2 separate regions of the Homo sapiens genome follow, and region 1 is linked to region 2. Evidence: fine-mapped expression QTL. Tissue or cell type: whole blood. Region 2 holds a variant in brackets; the other region holds the start of a gene. All regions are shown on one strand. Distances are between the middles of the regions.

The links. PIP is the estimated chance that this variant, and not a neighbour inherited with it, causes the effect.
Region 1: BEST1 starts here. The variant in region 2 is fine-mapped to the expression of BEST1 in whole blood (TOPMed, PIP above 0.99).

Annotation. Positions count from the first base shown.
Region 1 is chr11:61,946,065-61,954,160 of GRCh38, reverse strand. BEST1 (bestrophin 1) reads right to left here and starts at 3,810. Exons shown (of 11, transcript NM_004183.4): 1 at 3,734-3,810; 2 at 2,203-2,390. The coding sequence starts at 2,354. LOC107984334 (a long non-coding RNA gene) reads left to right here. Exons shown (of 2, transcript XR_001748245.2): 2 at 1-242. It also overlaps a transcript of RAB3IL1 not described here. RefSeq lists a silencer at 7,949-8,096.
Region 2 is chr11:61,974,489-61,982,592 of GRCh38, reverse strand. No RefSeq gene overlaps it. Among named protein-coding and RNA genes, the nearest start is that of FTH1, 11 kb to the right of the region's middle. RefSeq lists a silencer at 3,996-4,212. The variant C/T (reference allele first, on the strand shown) is at 4,112.

The DNA of each region.
Region 1 (8,096 bases), 28 kb after region 2:
CTAAAACTACTCTAAAAAATGAAGTCTGACTCTTTTTCAGCATGCATTAGTGCCCAAGTAAAAACCAAAGACCAATGTGCTTTGTATTTGGTATTAGGAGGAACTTAAGAATTTTATGTATTTGATGTTTTATAATCCATTGTAGTCATTAGTGCTTTTTCAATTTAAAATGCTATCATATATTCGGTGATTATATCTGTCCTTTATTTTATTGTTTAGATAAATGTTTTTGGTTTATTGGTTTTTGTTTGTTTGTTTGTTTGTTTGTTTGTTTTGAGATAGGGTCTTGCTCTGTTACCCAGGCTCAAGGGCAGTGGCACAGTCATGACTCACTGCAGCCTCAACCTCCTGGGCTCAAGCAATCCTCCCGCTTCAGCCTCCTGAGGAGCTGGGTGGGACTACAGGCATAAGCCACCATGCCCAGATCATTTTTTGATTTTTATTTTATTTTTAGACGGAGTCTCACTCTGTCACCTAGGCTGGAGTGCAATGGCATGGTCTCGGCTCACTGCAACCTCTGCCTCCCGGGCTCAAGCGATTCTCCGGCCTCATCCTCCTGAGTAGCTGGAACTACAGGTGCGTGCCACCCCACTCGGCTAATTTTTGTATTTTTAGTAGAGATTGGGTTCACTATGTTGGCCAGGCTGGTCTTGAACTCCTGACCTCATGATCCACCCGCCTCGGCCTCCCAAAGTGCTGGGATTACGGGTGTAAGCCAAAGGGCCTAGCCAATTTTTTAATTTTTTATAGAGACAGGATCAGGATCTCCCTATGTTGCTCAGGTCCTAAACTCCTGGGCTCAAGTGATCCTCCTGCCTTGGCCTCCCAAAGTGCTGGGATTACAGGTGTGAGCCCCTGTGGCTGGCCCTAACTTTTTTTAAAGTACCTTGGTGCCCTAGTAAAAACCAAATGTGCCTTGTTGCTAGCATTATTAAGAACACAAGAATTTCATGTATTTGATATTTTACAATCCATGTAATCATTAATGCTTTTTCAATTTAAAATGCTATCATATATTCTGTGATTATATTTTATTGTTTAGATAAACATTATTTTGTTTGCTTTTGAGATAGCCTGTCACTCAGGCTGAAGTGCAGTGGTGTGATCATAGCTCACTGCAGCCTCGACCTCACAGGCTTCAGCCATCCCCACACCTCAGCTTCCCAAGTAGCTGGGACCACAGGCAAATGCCACCACTCCCAGCTAATTTTTTAAATTTTTGGTAGAGACGGGGTCTCACTATGTTGCCCACGCTGAACTCCCAGGCTCAAGTGATCCCCGCACCTTGGCCCCTCAAAGTGCTGGGATTACAGACGCGAGTCACTGCTACTGGCCTTAGATAAACATTTTAATTAAAAAATAATTTTAAAAAATGTACCATGTGGGCTGTGCATGGTGGCTGACACCTGTAATCCCAGCACTTTGGGAGGCCGAGGTGGGTGGATCACTTGAGGTCAGGGGTTCAAGACCAGCCTGGCCAACATGATGAAACCCTGTCTCTACTAAAAATACAGAAAAAAAAAAAAATTAGCCAGGCGTGGTGGTGTGTGCCTATAATTCCAGCTACTCAGGAGGCTAAGGCAGGAGAATCGCTTGCACCTGGGAGGCAGAGGTTACAGTGAGCCAAGATTGCCCCCACTGCACTCCAGCCTGGGTGATGGAGTGAAACCCTGTCTCAAAAAAAAAAAAAAAAAAAAAAAAGTACCATGTGGTTGGTCAAGTGCAGTAGCTCACACCTGTAATCCCAGCCCCTTGGGAGGCTAAGGCAGGGGGATTGCTTGAGCCTAGGAGTTCGAGACCAGCCTGGACAACACAGTGAGACTCCATCTCTCTCTCTCTCTCTCTCTCTCTCTCTCTTTTTTAATGTACTATGTGGGCCTATGAGTCTGTGTGGGATTCAGTAAAACAGGCCAGTTGAGTGGGGCCAGACAAAGCCTGGGCTCCAGGGGTCCTCCTGGGGTTGGAGGAAGGGTGGCTAAAACCCTGCTGGCCTGGCTTGAGCAGCCTCTCAGTCTGACTTCTTTTCTCTCCCCAGCCCCCAGCCCCAGCCTCAGCTCCAGTGCCCAGGACCTGGTCAGGAGCTCAGCTTAGTCTTGTAGTGAACTGGTACACTGGCCCCTGAGCTGGCTGGGAGGCCCCCAGGAGCTCCCAGCCCCAGCCACATCCTTCCCAGGCCCCCCGGCCCAGCCCTGCCAGCTTTACCTATAAATAAAGCGGATGATGTAGTAGCAGAGCAGGAAGATTAAGAACTCGCCATATAGCAGCTTGTAGATGCTGCCCCGCCAGCACAGCAGCAGGCGGGAGAAGGAGCCTAAGCGGGCATTAGCCACTTGGCTTGTGTAAGTGATGGTCATGGCCAGGCAGTGGGCTGCAGCAGGTGGGCTTGGGTCCTGGTAGAGAGGGACACCGATTGGGGGTTTGTAGGGATCAGAGGCCCTGGTCAGAGCCTGTCAGGACCCTTCCCTGCTCTGGACCTCAACTCTCCCATAGGGACCCTAGGAGGTGGATGAAGTGGTCTCCAAGGCCCTGCCAGTTCTGACTGCCTTTTGGAAGTAGAAACGCAAGAAAGTGAGCCCAGAGGCTGCCCTTTGCTTTGGCAGGGAAGACGTAGATAGGCGTGTGCATTGCCATGTGCCTTTAACTTTCTATAATCACTGGGCGCAGTGGCTCATGCCTATAATCCCAGCACTTTGGGAAGTCGAGGCAGGTGGATCACCTAAGGTCAGGAGTTCGAGACCAGCCTGGCCAACATGGTGAAACCCTGTCTCTACTAAAAATACAAAAAAATTATCCAGGCGTGGTGCGGGTGCCTGTAATCCCAGCTACTCAGGAGGCTGAGGCAGGAGAATCGCTTGAACCCAGGAGGTGGAGGTTGCAGTGAGCTGAGATCACGCCATTGCACTCCAGCCTGGGTAAGAAGAGCAAAACTCTGTCTAAAAATAAATAAATAAATAAATAAATAATACAATGACAAAGGCAGTAACAGCAGCAATGTCTACACACTAAGCTCAGGTCCTCTGGGCTAGGCAGTGTTCTCAGCCCATCTTGTTCGTTAGCTCCCAAGCTCTCTCAACCACCCTAGTGTGAGAAGTATGGAAGGGACCAGGCAGCCCTGTCCACCACCATATTCCCATTCCCATAATGGAACCTAGCTGGTAGAGATGCTCAAATGATGTTTACTGAATGGTGGCTCCAGGGCCTTTCCACCTGCTGATCTTCCTGCCTGGAGGAAGCTCTTCCTGAGATACCTGCATGGTTCCTTCCCACTCCAGGTTCCCTTTAGAAAGGATGTTCCCAACCATCCAACCTGGAAATAGAGCCCCACTGCCACCGGTGCTCTGTGTCTCCTCACCTTGCTTGATATTTCTAGAGAGCACTTATCACTACTTGAAATTATACAGGATATCTGCCTGTTTCCTGCCTGTTTCCTCCTCAGAATGGAAGCTCCTCTTGTGTTCTCGTAGAAGGCGCTCAATAAAAATTTACTGAAGCAGTGATTGATGCCCCCTCCATTCTTTCCCTGTGTGTTTTGCTGCAGCCACACTGGCTGGCTGTGCCTGATGCACACCAAGCTCATTCCCACCTCAGGGCATTTGCACAGACACACAGGTGCCCACACACCTGCGCATGTGCTGCCTGTGTGTGCATATCCCACACAAATACGCAAGATGGCCATCCAACCCTGAAGGCCTCAAAGCCCCAGCCCAGTCCACCTGGGGCACCTTGTACTCACAGGTGGGGTTCCAGGTGGGTCCGATGATCCCACAGAAGGTCTGGCGACTAGGCTGGTGGGACTCCCTGGGACTCTGTGGCCAGTGCCCCTGCCCACTCTTAGAGGCTGGCACTGCCCACGTGAGTGCTGAGCCGCCGTCACTTGACTCCCTAAGCCAGGACCTCCACAAAGGAGTCCTTGTCTTAGTCCCTTCTTGTAATCTGCTCAGAAGCAACGGCTAGCACAGCCTGGCCATGGCCCCTCTAATTTCTTCTTGGAGGGTGTTGGGCTGAGACCAGGGCTGGAATTTAGGGCAACACCCCCTCTACCATGGCCCTAAAATCCAGAGGCTAAAGGATCTGCTCCACCAGTGTTCTGACCCCTGAGGCCTTGCAGAGAGAGTTGGGGGTTAGGGGGCTGTGCTGAGCTTCAACTTCTGTGCCAGGAACTCTCCAGGAAGGAGGAGCCTCTGACTAGGCCCTGGGGTCTTTGACAGCCCTGTGGGCTATGGAAAGAATGAATACCGGGCTGCAGTCAACAGTCCTGGTTTCTGGTCCCAGCCTTGCCACCTGTGTGTGGTGACCCCGGGTAGGTTTCAGCTCCTCTCTCAGCCTCAGTGCCCTTATCTGAAAAGGATGGTGTTGCTTGGGAATTTCATCACCCTAGTAAAATGACAGAATTCTGCATATGCTGACGAGGAGCTCTGATTGGCTGCTGGTGACATCATACGTTATTCTGGCTGTGATTGGCTGGCAGGGCCCATCAGTAAGTTGCTTCAGAGAGATGGAAGGAGAAGCCTGCCGGGGCTGGTGGAGGGGGGTGAGTCTGGTGGGGGTTGACAGAACAGCCCTGGAGTTTATGCTGCTGGCTTCCAGCCAGCCAGTGCAATATGGGAATAAATGCCCAGATCCCCACGGGCAGCTGGTGAAAATCTCAGCATGTGATTCAATAAATTTTAATACATCAATCCATACTCAAGGGCTCTCCTAAGCTGTTGGAAGTGGTGGGTGTCTACCTACACACTCCTCTTGTATTGTTCAATGAAGAGAGCAGAGCTCTAGGCAGCAGTGGTTCTTGGTCTTTAGAGGCCGTAAGAATCGCCCAAATGTTTATTAAACGGGCAGTTTTCTGGATCTTTCTCCAGAGTCTGAGTCTGTGGCCTTAGGGATGTTGCATTTTAATCAAGCACTGCAGGGGATTATGAGATGTGTGGTTTTGGGACTAAACTTCCAGAAGCCCTGATTTTATAATATGACCTTGTGTCTTAAACCCACTCTCATCCTCCCTTTCCTGTCACCCTCTCTCTCTGAAATGTACTAAGCGTTAACTATGCTGAGATTGCAGGTGATTTTTCTACACACCACTTTTTTTTTCACTTTAAGTTCTGGGATACGTGTGCAGAATGTACAGGTTTGTTACATAGGTATACATGATGTGCAGGTTTGTTACATAGGTATACGTGTGCCATGGTGGTTTGCTGCACCTGTCAACCCATCATCTAGGTTTTAAGCCTTGCGTGCATTAGGTATTTGTCCTAATGCTCTCCCTCCCCTTGTCCCCCACCCCCACACACCATTTTTGCCTTTATATAATTATCTGCCTAGAAAAAAAAACACTATTTCGCAATGACCTTGAATACTTTTCTAATCATGGCAAACAATAAAGCTGTTGTTATTATAAGACTCTCTTTAGAGGCAGCCTTGTAGGAGTATTTACTGCCTCCCCGCTGCCCCATCGCTGTCCTCAACTGATATGGGGAAAGAAGCAGGTTCACTTCAGCCTCAGTCTCCTCATATGCAAAATGGGACAACGATGCCTACCTTGGCAGCCGAATGAGAATGATGGATGGGACATGTGTCCGTCAACTCTCCAAACCACTGGTGCCTGTGCCTGACCCCTACGAATTCTGATTTGATTGGTCTGGATGGACCCCAGGTGTTGGGATTGTTCAAGTTCTCCAGGTGATTCTGATTTTATGGCCTGTGCTGAGTCATTGCTTAATGGATTATTTCCCTATCCTGTATTCCCTTCCCAACCAACACATCCTGAAACTCAAGAGCTTTCCATTTAGAAGATGATAAATATATATTATATATATTTATATATTAACATATGTAAATATGTATTAATATGTCTATAATATTACAAATATATTTGTATGTACACATATATTTATACATATAAATATATAAGTAAATATATAACTATATTTTTGAGACAAGGTCACCCAGGCTGGAGTGCAATGGGTGTGATTTTGGCTCATTGCAACCTCCACTTCCCAGGCTCAAGCAATCCTCCCATCTCAGCCTCCCAAGTCGCTGGGACTACAGACGCACACCACCACACCCAGCTATTTTTTTTTTTTTTATAGAGATAGGGTCTCACTACATTACCCAGGCTGGTATTGAGCTCTAAGTTCAAGCAGTCCTCCCACCTAGGCCTCCCAAAGTGGTGGGATTACAGGAGTGAGCCGCCACACTCGGCCAATAAGTATGTTTTAACTAAAGTTAACACACATGCCTGGCACCATGCCTGGAACATTGATGCTCATTCTGTACTCTCTGAAGGAATAAATGAAAATCCTGCCTTTGTGGAGACAAGTTCTTGCCTTCCCTGTGGTGGCCACTAGAGAGCGTGCTTGACTAGCTGGCTCTGGCTGGGGAAGCCTGGTTCACTGGTCAGGATCAGTGCAGACCACGGAGCTGGCACTGCTTCATCTCCCTGACCCCGACCAGCAGCCATAGAGCCATGAGAGGGAGTTGGAGACACTAGAGTCCCTCCTCCCTGTTCCCTGAACCGCAGGCTCCTTGGCAATATCCCAGGAGTACCACCAGGACCATAGACAGTGCATGGCCAGTCTCCCTTCCCCTCCCAGAGGCCCCAGCATGTCCCCAGAGACATCCCATGAGCAGCTGCTCCTGGCCCTGCCCCAGAGCTGAGACAGGCACACCCTGGCACAAGTCATGGTCTCTCCTACTGGGTCTCAGCTATGAAAATGTCCCCAGTTAGCCAGGCACGGCTCAGGCACACAGCAAAGTCATGAGTGCTGATTGACCCAAGCCATGCCTGGAACAAGAGTCCCAGGATTGACCCCTGCAGAGATGGCACCCAACCCAGTCAAGGTCGCCCTCTTCTGCTTTCCGTTCCGCAAAGAAAATATTCGCCAAACCATTTCTCCTTCCAGAACTGAGCCTAATCTGATTCCTGCCTGTACGTATTCATAGTCAAAAAATTTGGAAACACTTAAATAACAACTCTAACACAGAATGGCAAGGCCTAAGATCTGTGCCAAGTGCACAGAGGTCAGGGAAATTTTTACAGACAATGGGGCATTTCGGTTGGGTCTTGAAGCATGAGTAGGAGTTCATGGAGCTGAGAAGAATGGAAGAGCATTACACATCAGGGGAACAACCTACGGAAAGTCATAGAGCTATTCCTGAAGGATGATTCAGTATCGCATGTTTATCCACATTTTACAAAGGAGGACACTGAAGCTCAAGGCCTGCCTTGTCCAAGGTCACACAGCTATAAATGGCTTGAGACTAGGATCTAGGTCTTTTGATTTTGGATCCTGAGCCCTTTCCCACTATCAGCTCTACAGTAAAGGTCAGTTTCTGAGAGGTAGAGTCTTACCTGCTAGGGTAGTGGTCTCTCTTGGGGTTGAAGGGAGGTCCAAAGGATGGGGCCTGCATGAAAGATACTTTTTTTTTTTTTTTGAGACGGAGTCTCGCTTTGTTACCCAGGCTGGAGTGCAGTGGCATGATCTTGGCTCACTGCAACATCTGCCTCCTGGGTTCAAGTGATTTCCGGCTAAGTATTGTATTTTTAGTAGAGATGGGGTTTCACCATGTTGGCCAGGTTGGTCTTGAACTCCTGACCTCAAGTAATTCACCCGCCTCGGCCTCCCAAAGTGCTAGGATTGCAGGCATGAGCCACTGTGCCTGGCCGCATGGAAGAAACTTTGACTGCAGCAGATTCCAAGCTCTCGAGCTCCCCAGCAGAGAGCCATCTCTTGGGGCAGCAGGGCAGAGCTGGGGAGATGCGCGGGGGTGCCAGACACAGAATGCTATGGCCTTCTCATCTAGAATTACCATAGCAACAGGAGCATCACAGAGGGCCTGCCTCGGTGCCCTTCTAGGCCCTGCCTCAGCTGGGCAGGAAGAAGGAGACCCAGCTTGGCTGGGGGCAGTAGGCAGGGGGCCCCGGGGTAAGTCAGCCAGGCCTGGATGCTGCCTCCAGGCTTTATGTGGGACACCTGCCAGCCCACACCCCTCTCTTGGGCCAGTCACAGAACAAATAGGGCAGAGGCCAAGAAAGAAAAGGAGGGGGCTTGGCATAGCTGGACAGGGGTGCTGGGGGACACTGCCAGTCCAGGGCCCGGAAG
Region 2 (8,104 bases):
TTTAGAAATGCAGTTATAACCTTTCACTTTCCCTTCACCAGACACTCCCTACAGGGCAAGTTTATCTAACTTCGTGCTTAGAAGCTCCAGGGTGGAACTCTGTCCCACCAGGGGACTGCCTTGAGAGACAACAGTCCATTTACAACCCAAAGCATGCCTGCTATGAAACTCTCTCCCACCTGGAGAGTTTTGGCCACCTTCACAACCCAGTTCTGTCCTCAAAGACGCCAACTCTCGGCCACCTGGTAGATAAGGCACCAAAGCAAGTACACAGCCCCCCACCTGCCTGCTTCCTCCCATGTGCCATTCATGTCTGTGTGCCAGGCACCCTTTAAAAGTACCCACCTTCCACGCCAAAAGTGAAGTGATACTCTTTTTTTTTTTTTTAGAAGGAGTCTTGCTGTGTTGCCCAGACTGAGTACAGTGGCATGATCTCAGCTCACAGCAACCTCTGCCTCCTGGGTTCAAGTGATTCTCCTGCCTCAGCCTCCTGGGTAGCTGGGATTATAGGCACCTGCCACCATGCCTGGCTAATTTTTGTATTTTTAGTAGAGATAGGGTTTCACCATGTTGGCCAGGCTGTCTCGAACTCCTGACCTCAGGTGATCTGCCTGCCTGTGCCTCCCAAAGTGCTGGGATTACAGGCATGAGCCACTGCGCCCAGCCCAAAGTGGTAGCCTTTTTTGTTTTTGCTTTGTTTTGCTTTGATTGTTTTTGAAACAGAGTTTTTCTCTTGTGGGCCAGGCTGGAGTGCAATGGCGTGATCTCAGCTCACCACAACCTCCGCCTCCTGGGTTCATGTGACTCTCCTGTCTCAGCCTCCCGAGTAGCTGGGATTACAGGCATGCGCCACTACGCCTGGTTAATTTTGTATTTTTAGTAGAGAAGGGGTTTCTCCATGTTGGTCAGGCTGGTCTTGAACTCCCGACCAAGATGATCCACCCGCCTTGGCCTCCCAAAGTGCTGGGATTACAGGCTTGAGCCACCTCGCCCAGCCCCAAGGTGGTACTCTTAAGGTAAGAAGCCTGTACCTCTTCCCCTAAGCTAGTTTTGAAATAAAAAGTCACTTTACTTATACCAGACCTCACTCTTATTATTTGGACTCTGCAAGTGGCAGGCAACTGAACCTGTGTTTTGGTTACAATGCTGCATGTGGAATGTGGGCATGTTTTAACGTGTTTGCCCTGATGTGCAGTGGGGCCTCCCAAATCTGAGTGCTGGGCTCCTAGAGGTCTTCACACAGATCCACATACAGCTCTGAAGTCTGAATGGTGCAGGCCTGAGTGTCCCAGCTGAGGTCACTGTACTCTGGTAAAATCAGACACCAGCAAGCGAGAGCAGAGAGCAATTGGTAAAAACTCTTCCTGTCTCCAGTGAGCCCTGGGGCCCAATGCCATTCAGAAGTGCTCATCAACTCCATTTCCTTAATTTGCTTAAACAACCATTAAGATTTAGACACTCCAAGAGGCAGTACTGGCTCAAGCAAGACCCAGTCAGACAAAGCTCAAGACCTTTTCACAATGCTTGTGAGATGCGGCAGGGCAGGGGGTCCTAACTTTACCCCTGGAAGAAGGAAGCCTGCAGCTCTGGAGGATGCTGGAAGACAGCCAGAGGATGAAGCCCGGTGGATGGGAGCGGATCTGAGAGAATCACAGAGAAACGGGGCCCGAGCCCTGATGGAACCACGTCTAAAGTCCACCTCGTCTGGGCTTTTCAACTCCACAAGTCAATAAATCCCCCTTGTTGCTTAATCTATTGTGGGTTGGGTTTTGTTGCTTGAAAGCAAAATCATCCCGACTGATGTGAGACCTCCCAGCTCTCTCCTCCATCCACCCAGGGCACCATCTCAGAAGCCATGTCTCTCCAGAGCGATTTTCCCTGGAGTATTTTTCACAGGGGTTGGTCTGGAGGCAACTGCACTCAGCCCTTCCATCCTAACACTGACAGTGATGACAGCCCATCTGAAATTCAGGACCTTTTCAGAAATATCCTCCTTCCCTGGGAACGGCAGAGAGTAAGGACATGCAAGAAGCCTGGCTCGGGTGGGATATCTGTGCCAAGGACTGATCACACAGCAAGACAGAGCTGCAGCATCCAGCATTTTTATTTATTTATTTTTTTGAGACGGAGTTTCACTCTTTTTGCCCAGGGTGCAGTGCAATGGTGCGATCTCAACTCACCGCAACCTCCGCCTCGTGGGTTCAAGCGATTCTCCTGCCTCAGCCTCCCGTGTAGCTGGGGTTACAGGTGCATGCCGCCACGTCTAATTTTGTATTTTTAGTAGAAACGGGGTTTCACCATGTTCGCCAGTCTAGTCTCAAACTCCTGACCTCAGGTGATCCGCCCGCCTCAGCCTCTCAAAGTGCTGGGATTACAGGCGCGAGCCACCGCGCCCAGCCCAGCATCCAGCATTTTTGTTGTTCCCCCTTATTCCCTCCATGCCTTGCTAGGGATAACCTGGTAAACAAACAGAAATCTCAAATTCAATAAGCACCCCCATTTGATAAGCATTTACTAAATCCCCATATGGGAGGCACCATGGGCAAACAGTGGAATGACAAGTGGATAACAGGATGGAGCCGAATGATCTGGGCAGTGGGTGGGGACAAGGAGCGGTTCAGAGTGTGGGCTCTGGACTGGAACAGCAGGTGTGTGTCCTTGGGCAAGGTACTTTGTAGTTCTGTGCTTCAGTTTCCTCATCTGTCGAATGACATGTTTGGCCTATGTAGTAAGGGGTCAAGAAGTATCTGCTTTTATTAATAAGTATTAGTTTTTATTCTTACTTGATTCATTTTTAAGAAAAGAGTCTGAGTCTAACCCACCCAGCTGGGTGGAGCTTGGGCCTGAGGACCCCTGCCCTTGGAATACAGGAGTTTTGGGCTAAAGAGCTGACCAAGCTGGTTGGGCTTAAGGCAAACTCCAGAGACCAGTTCCAACTCCCGAGGCTCCCATTCCAGGCTCTTAAGGGGAAACTGCAGGATGGGCCCTCCGTTACCTGGAGTTAAGTGCAAAGAACCATCTCTCACGGGGCAGTACTGGCTCAAGCGAGACCCAGTCAGACAAAGCTCAAGACCTTTTCACAACGCTTGTGAGATGGGGCAGGGCAGGGGGTCCTAACTTTACCCCCCGTTTCGCCCCCCAGCAGGGCAAGGATTCCCCTTTCTCACGATGATTCAATCACATCCAACCAGAGTCTTAGCTGAGGCCCTGCCAGGTGCCAGGGCCTGGTCCCATTCCTGGGAGCAGAGATGAAGACCAGCTTCCTACAAGCCTCCTATGATGCCTTCCTACGAGCCTCCCCTATGATGATGCAATGGCACAGGGCCTCCTGTCACTCAGTAAAGGCCGAAGGAATAAACATTAGCAGGAATAAGAGACAAGCTCTGAATCCAGGAAGACTTCTCGGCAGAGGCAGGATCTGGACTGCAGCTTGGAGAAAGGGTGGATCTTTGATAGATAAAAGTGAACAGCTAGGGGAGGAAAGACTTCAACAAAGGACAGAGGCGGGGGACCAGGGGTGCGGTGGGGCACCCCAGGGGCTGGTGTGGATGAAGCAGAGGACTGTTGGGGCCCAGAGGAGGGACACCAGAGGACAAGCCCTCAGGCAGCCCCACGAGCCTGTTTTGCCCCCCGCCAGAGAGCTGAGGCTGGCACACAGGGGTGGGAGAAGTTCCTTTGTCCTTCTCCTCTTTCTCTGCAACCCTGCCCAGGAAACCAATGATAGCTGCTTGGCACAGAGTTCCCTGTGTTTTTTCATAATCACATAACCGTACTTGAGCACTGCCAGAAGAATTTAATCTCAGGAAGCAGAGAAGCATGAGGAAAGAAGGCTGGTGTGGGAGTCAGAAGGCCTAGGTTTTGGTCCTTGGCTCAGCCACCGACTTTCCCTGTAACCCTGATCTGGTCACCCCAAATCCCCAGCCCCAGATATCATTTTCTTCATCTAACCCAAGGACTGGCATAGAGCTGGCATTTAAAAATGTTTGAAGCCAAGTGCAGTGGCTCAGGCCTGTAATCCCAAGCTTTGGGGAGGCTGAGGCAGGAGGATCTTTGGAGGTCAGGAGTTTGGGACCAGCCTGGGCAATATAGTGAGACCCCATCAAAAATTGCT[C/T]TAATTAGCCAGGTGTAGTGGCATGCACCTGTAATCCCAGCTACTCAGGAGGCTGAGGTGGGAGGACTACTTGAGCCCAGGAGTTGGTGGCTGCAGTGAGCTACGATCGTGCTACTGCACTCCAGCCTCGGTGACAGAGTTGAGACCCTGTCTCTATTTTTAAAAAAATAATAACAAAATAAAAACATTAGTTGAGTGATTGAAAGTATTAGATAGTCTCAAAGGCTCCTTCCTGTCTTGAAAATTCTGAGACCCATGCAGGAATCAGTTGCCATTTAGATGATGTAAAACAGTGGTCCCCAGCCTTTTTGACACCAGGCACCGGTTTTGTGGAAGACAATTTTTTCCATGGACAAGGGGTGGGGGAGGGAGATGGTTTCAGGATGAAACTGTTCCACCTCAGATCATCAGGCATTAGTTAGGTTCTCATAAGGAGCGCACAACCTAGATCCCTGTCACGTGCAGTTCACCGTAGGGTTCACACTCCTATGAGAAGCTAATGCCACTGCTGATCTGACAGGAGGCAGAGCTGGGATAACCAGCAGGCAGAGCTTGGAGGTAATGTTCATTCACCCACTGCTCACCTCCTGCCATGCAGCCTGGAGGTGCACAGTCTATGCACCTTCGGTACCAGTCTATGGACCAGGGGTTGGGGACCCCTGATATAAAAGGTAAGTTGACTGAAAAATCTGTTGCAAGTAAAACAAAACATGTCTATCCCTGAATCTAGGGATGGAGGCAGTTCCAATTATAGCACATCACAGAGGTTGGAGGGAGGGAAATAGTTCCCCAGAGGAAAATCTGGATCTAGTGTCCAGAAGACAGGTGGATATTGGGGAGTAGGTATGGATCTGGAGAAATCAATTCCAGAAAAAAGCAAAAAGCAAAACATCCGGATTCCTGCCACTACACATACACACCCCTGTCCACCCACATACACACCCACGATATTGAAAGGGCAGCTGGATAGGTGAGTAAATAGTGGGGAAAAACGAGAGCCACTTGGTTCCAACTAATGCTTTCAAAGAATTACAAAAGGCAGGGATGTTTGACAGGGGGTTAGCATATCATCCGTGCAGCTGGAAACAGATGAGAAAGGTAATAGCATGTAAAGCCCCTTCCCATGGGAAGGCTCTCCTGGCTCTGACTCAGGCCAACTGGCTTCTGAGCCATCAGAAGCTTTGTCAGAAAGGTGGGTGAGCCCTCCGCACAGAAAACCAAGGGTGGGCTAAGGCCCCAGGGGAGGAGCTGGTGTTGCCCCAGTTTGGAGGTGGGTCATCCTATGCTTCCCGGCATGTGAACAGCTTCAGCTCCAGAGGCCCCGAGACTCTTTTAGGCAAGTTTATATGGTTCTCAGATCCTACATACGAAGGAGGTACCATGAGACCCTCAGGGAAGCATCTCCCACCACTCCCTAATATGGTGTGTCTTGTGGCTGAGCAGAGGCCCCCAGCCCCTGGGAGGACCAGCCAAGCACAGTGGGAGTAATGGGGGTCTGAGGAGCCAGCCATGGTCCCTGGGAATTACATGCTCCAGAAATACCCTTAGCTCTCCCATGTGGGCCGAGACCCACTGCCCTGCTCAGAATGCCACTGGATAGCCCCAGTCTACGGGCTGCCCAGGCATCTCCTGGGCCTGCCAGCCATTAGCACCAAGTCCAGATAACTCAAGACCAAGTCCAATTCGCTAAGCCCTGCCACGAGATCCCCAAGAGTGCCATCCAAAGAACCACAAAACTCCCACCAAGCAAACAGACTTCAGTTACTAATCAAATCAGCCCATTAATTTCAAAGATCACCCGTGACAGCTTTGCTGCTGGTAGAATCACAGCAACTACTTTGAAAGCACCCTCGGCCAACTCCAGTGGCTTGAAGCCCACCGAAGTTGGGTGCTGGCTCGCCTTCAGGATTCAGGGCTGCAGGAAGTGCTCTCCACCTGCAGGGATATTTCAGAAGCCTCAGCAAGTGGAATCTTGGAGCTCTTCTTCCTGCATGCTTCGAGATTAAGGGTAATGTATGTGCTGAGTTTAAGAATTGCCGTCATGGCTGTGTCAGGGCACCAGATTCAGAAAATTGCACCACAATCAGAGTCCAGATTCTGGTCAGAGCCCTGTCTCTTACCAGCTGCGCAATCTTAGGCAAGGCCGTCTCTTAACCTCTCTGACTTCCAGTTTCCTCACTGGATAAAGGAAACCTCTGCTGCCAGCACGGGCTACCTGCCCTACCTACTCAGAGGTGCTGTCAGTGTCAGCCCCGAAGGTGTCAACTTACTTTATGTAAAAATCTGTTATTTTATGGAATGAAAACTCCAACAATGCACTGGCCCACCGCCAGGAAGGATAGGACATTGTTTTGTAGTAGCAAGCTGATTTTTATACCAACCCTTCTTGCTTTCCTCCCACATTGGTCCCTAGTGACAGCCCACAGATTCCTCCAGTTGAGGAAACACTCTGTGGCCACAAAAGCAAGCCACAGGAATTGGTCCTCAGAGCCACAGAGCCTGTGACTGTGACATCTCCATCCCCATGGCCGCGCTGGTCCCAGCCCCGACTGCCTCACAGTGTCTTCAGGTCTCTGCCTAGGAATAATCCTGAAACCCCAGAAAGACTCACCAATTCCCAGCATCTTCCATACGGGAGGTAGAAACAGCTGGTAGTCTTAATTAAGTAAAGATGGAAAAACCAAACCTGGCCGGGCCCAGTGGCTCACGCCAGCATTTTGGGAGGCTGAGGTGGGCGGATTGTTTGAGGCCGCACTTCGAGACCAGCATGAGCAAAATGGCAAAACCCTGTTCTACTAAAAATACAACAATTCGCTGGGCATGGTGGTGCATGCCTGTAATCCCAGTTACTCAGGAGGCTGAGGTAGGAGAATCACTTGAACCCGGGAGGCAGAGGTTGTAGTGAGCTGAGATGGCCCCACTGCACTCCAGCCTAGGTAACACAGCAAGACTGTCAAAAAAACAAAAAACCTATGAGGCACGGGGTAGTGGTGGGGCAGCCTAACGCTCAGCAACAGGAAAGATGAATAAGAGTTGGGCTAAGAGCTAAGTCCAAGTTAAATCCAGCCCATATTTGTCGGTAGTCTGGGAGCCTGTGAAACTGTGAGTACTTTGCCAGGTGCTGAGGTGGGAAAGGCAAAGGCATGGCCAAGATAAACAGGGCAGAGGTTCCCTTGCTGTGGGGGAGGTGGGTATGGAGCAGGTCACTGTAATACTGCGTGGCAGTGGAGACCACGCGCTCGGAGTGCTGGAGGGCACAAAGAATGGAAATTCTCAGCTCTGCGGGGCAGTGCAGGGAGCTTTGGGAGCATATTTGAGCCCGGTGTTGAAGGCTGGGTACTTTTTCATGCAGAAGAGTGAGGGGCAGGCCGTCTGGGCAGATCAAACAGCTGTGCCAAGTCCCAAGGTGTGAGGGGAACCCTGGAGGGCTAGAGAGAAGCCTGGGGGTGAGTGGCTGGGCCATACCCTGGAATTACAATTATATCCCAAGGGCAGTGGAGAGCACTTAAGGAGTTTTATTTTATTTTTTATTTTTTTTAGAGACAAGGTTTGGCTCTGTCGCCCAGGCTGGAGTGCAGTGGCACAATCATTGCTGACTGCAGCTTCGAATTCCTGGGCTCAAGCAATCCTCCTCCCTCAGCCTCCTGAATAGCTGGGACTACAGGCCTGTGCCATCATACCCGGCTAATTTTTGTGTTTTTTTTTTTTTGGAGAGAGAGGGACTTGCTATGTCACCCAGGCTGGTCTCAAACTCCTGGGCTCAAGCAATCCTCTTCCCTCAGCCTCCTGAATAGCTGGGACTACAGGCCTGTGCCATCATACCCGGCTAATTTTTGTGTTTTTTTTTGGAGAGAGAGGGACTTGCTATGTCACCCAGGCTGGTCTCAAACTCCTGGGCTCAAGCAATCCTCCTCCCTCAGCCTCCTGAATAGCTGGGACTACAGGCCTGTGCCATCATACCTGGCTAATTTTTGTGTTTTTTTTTTGGAGAGA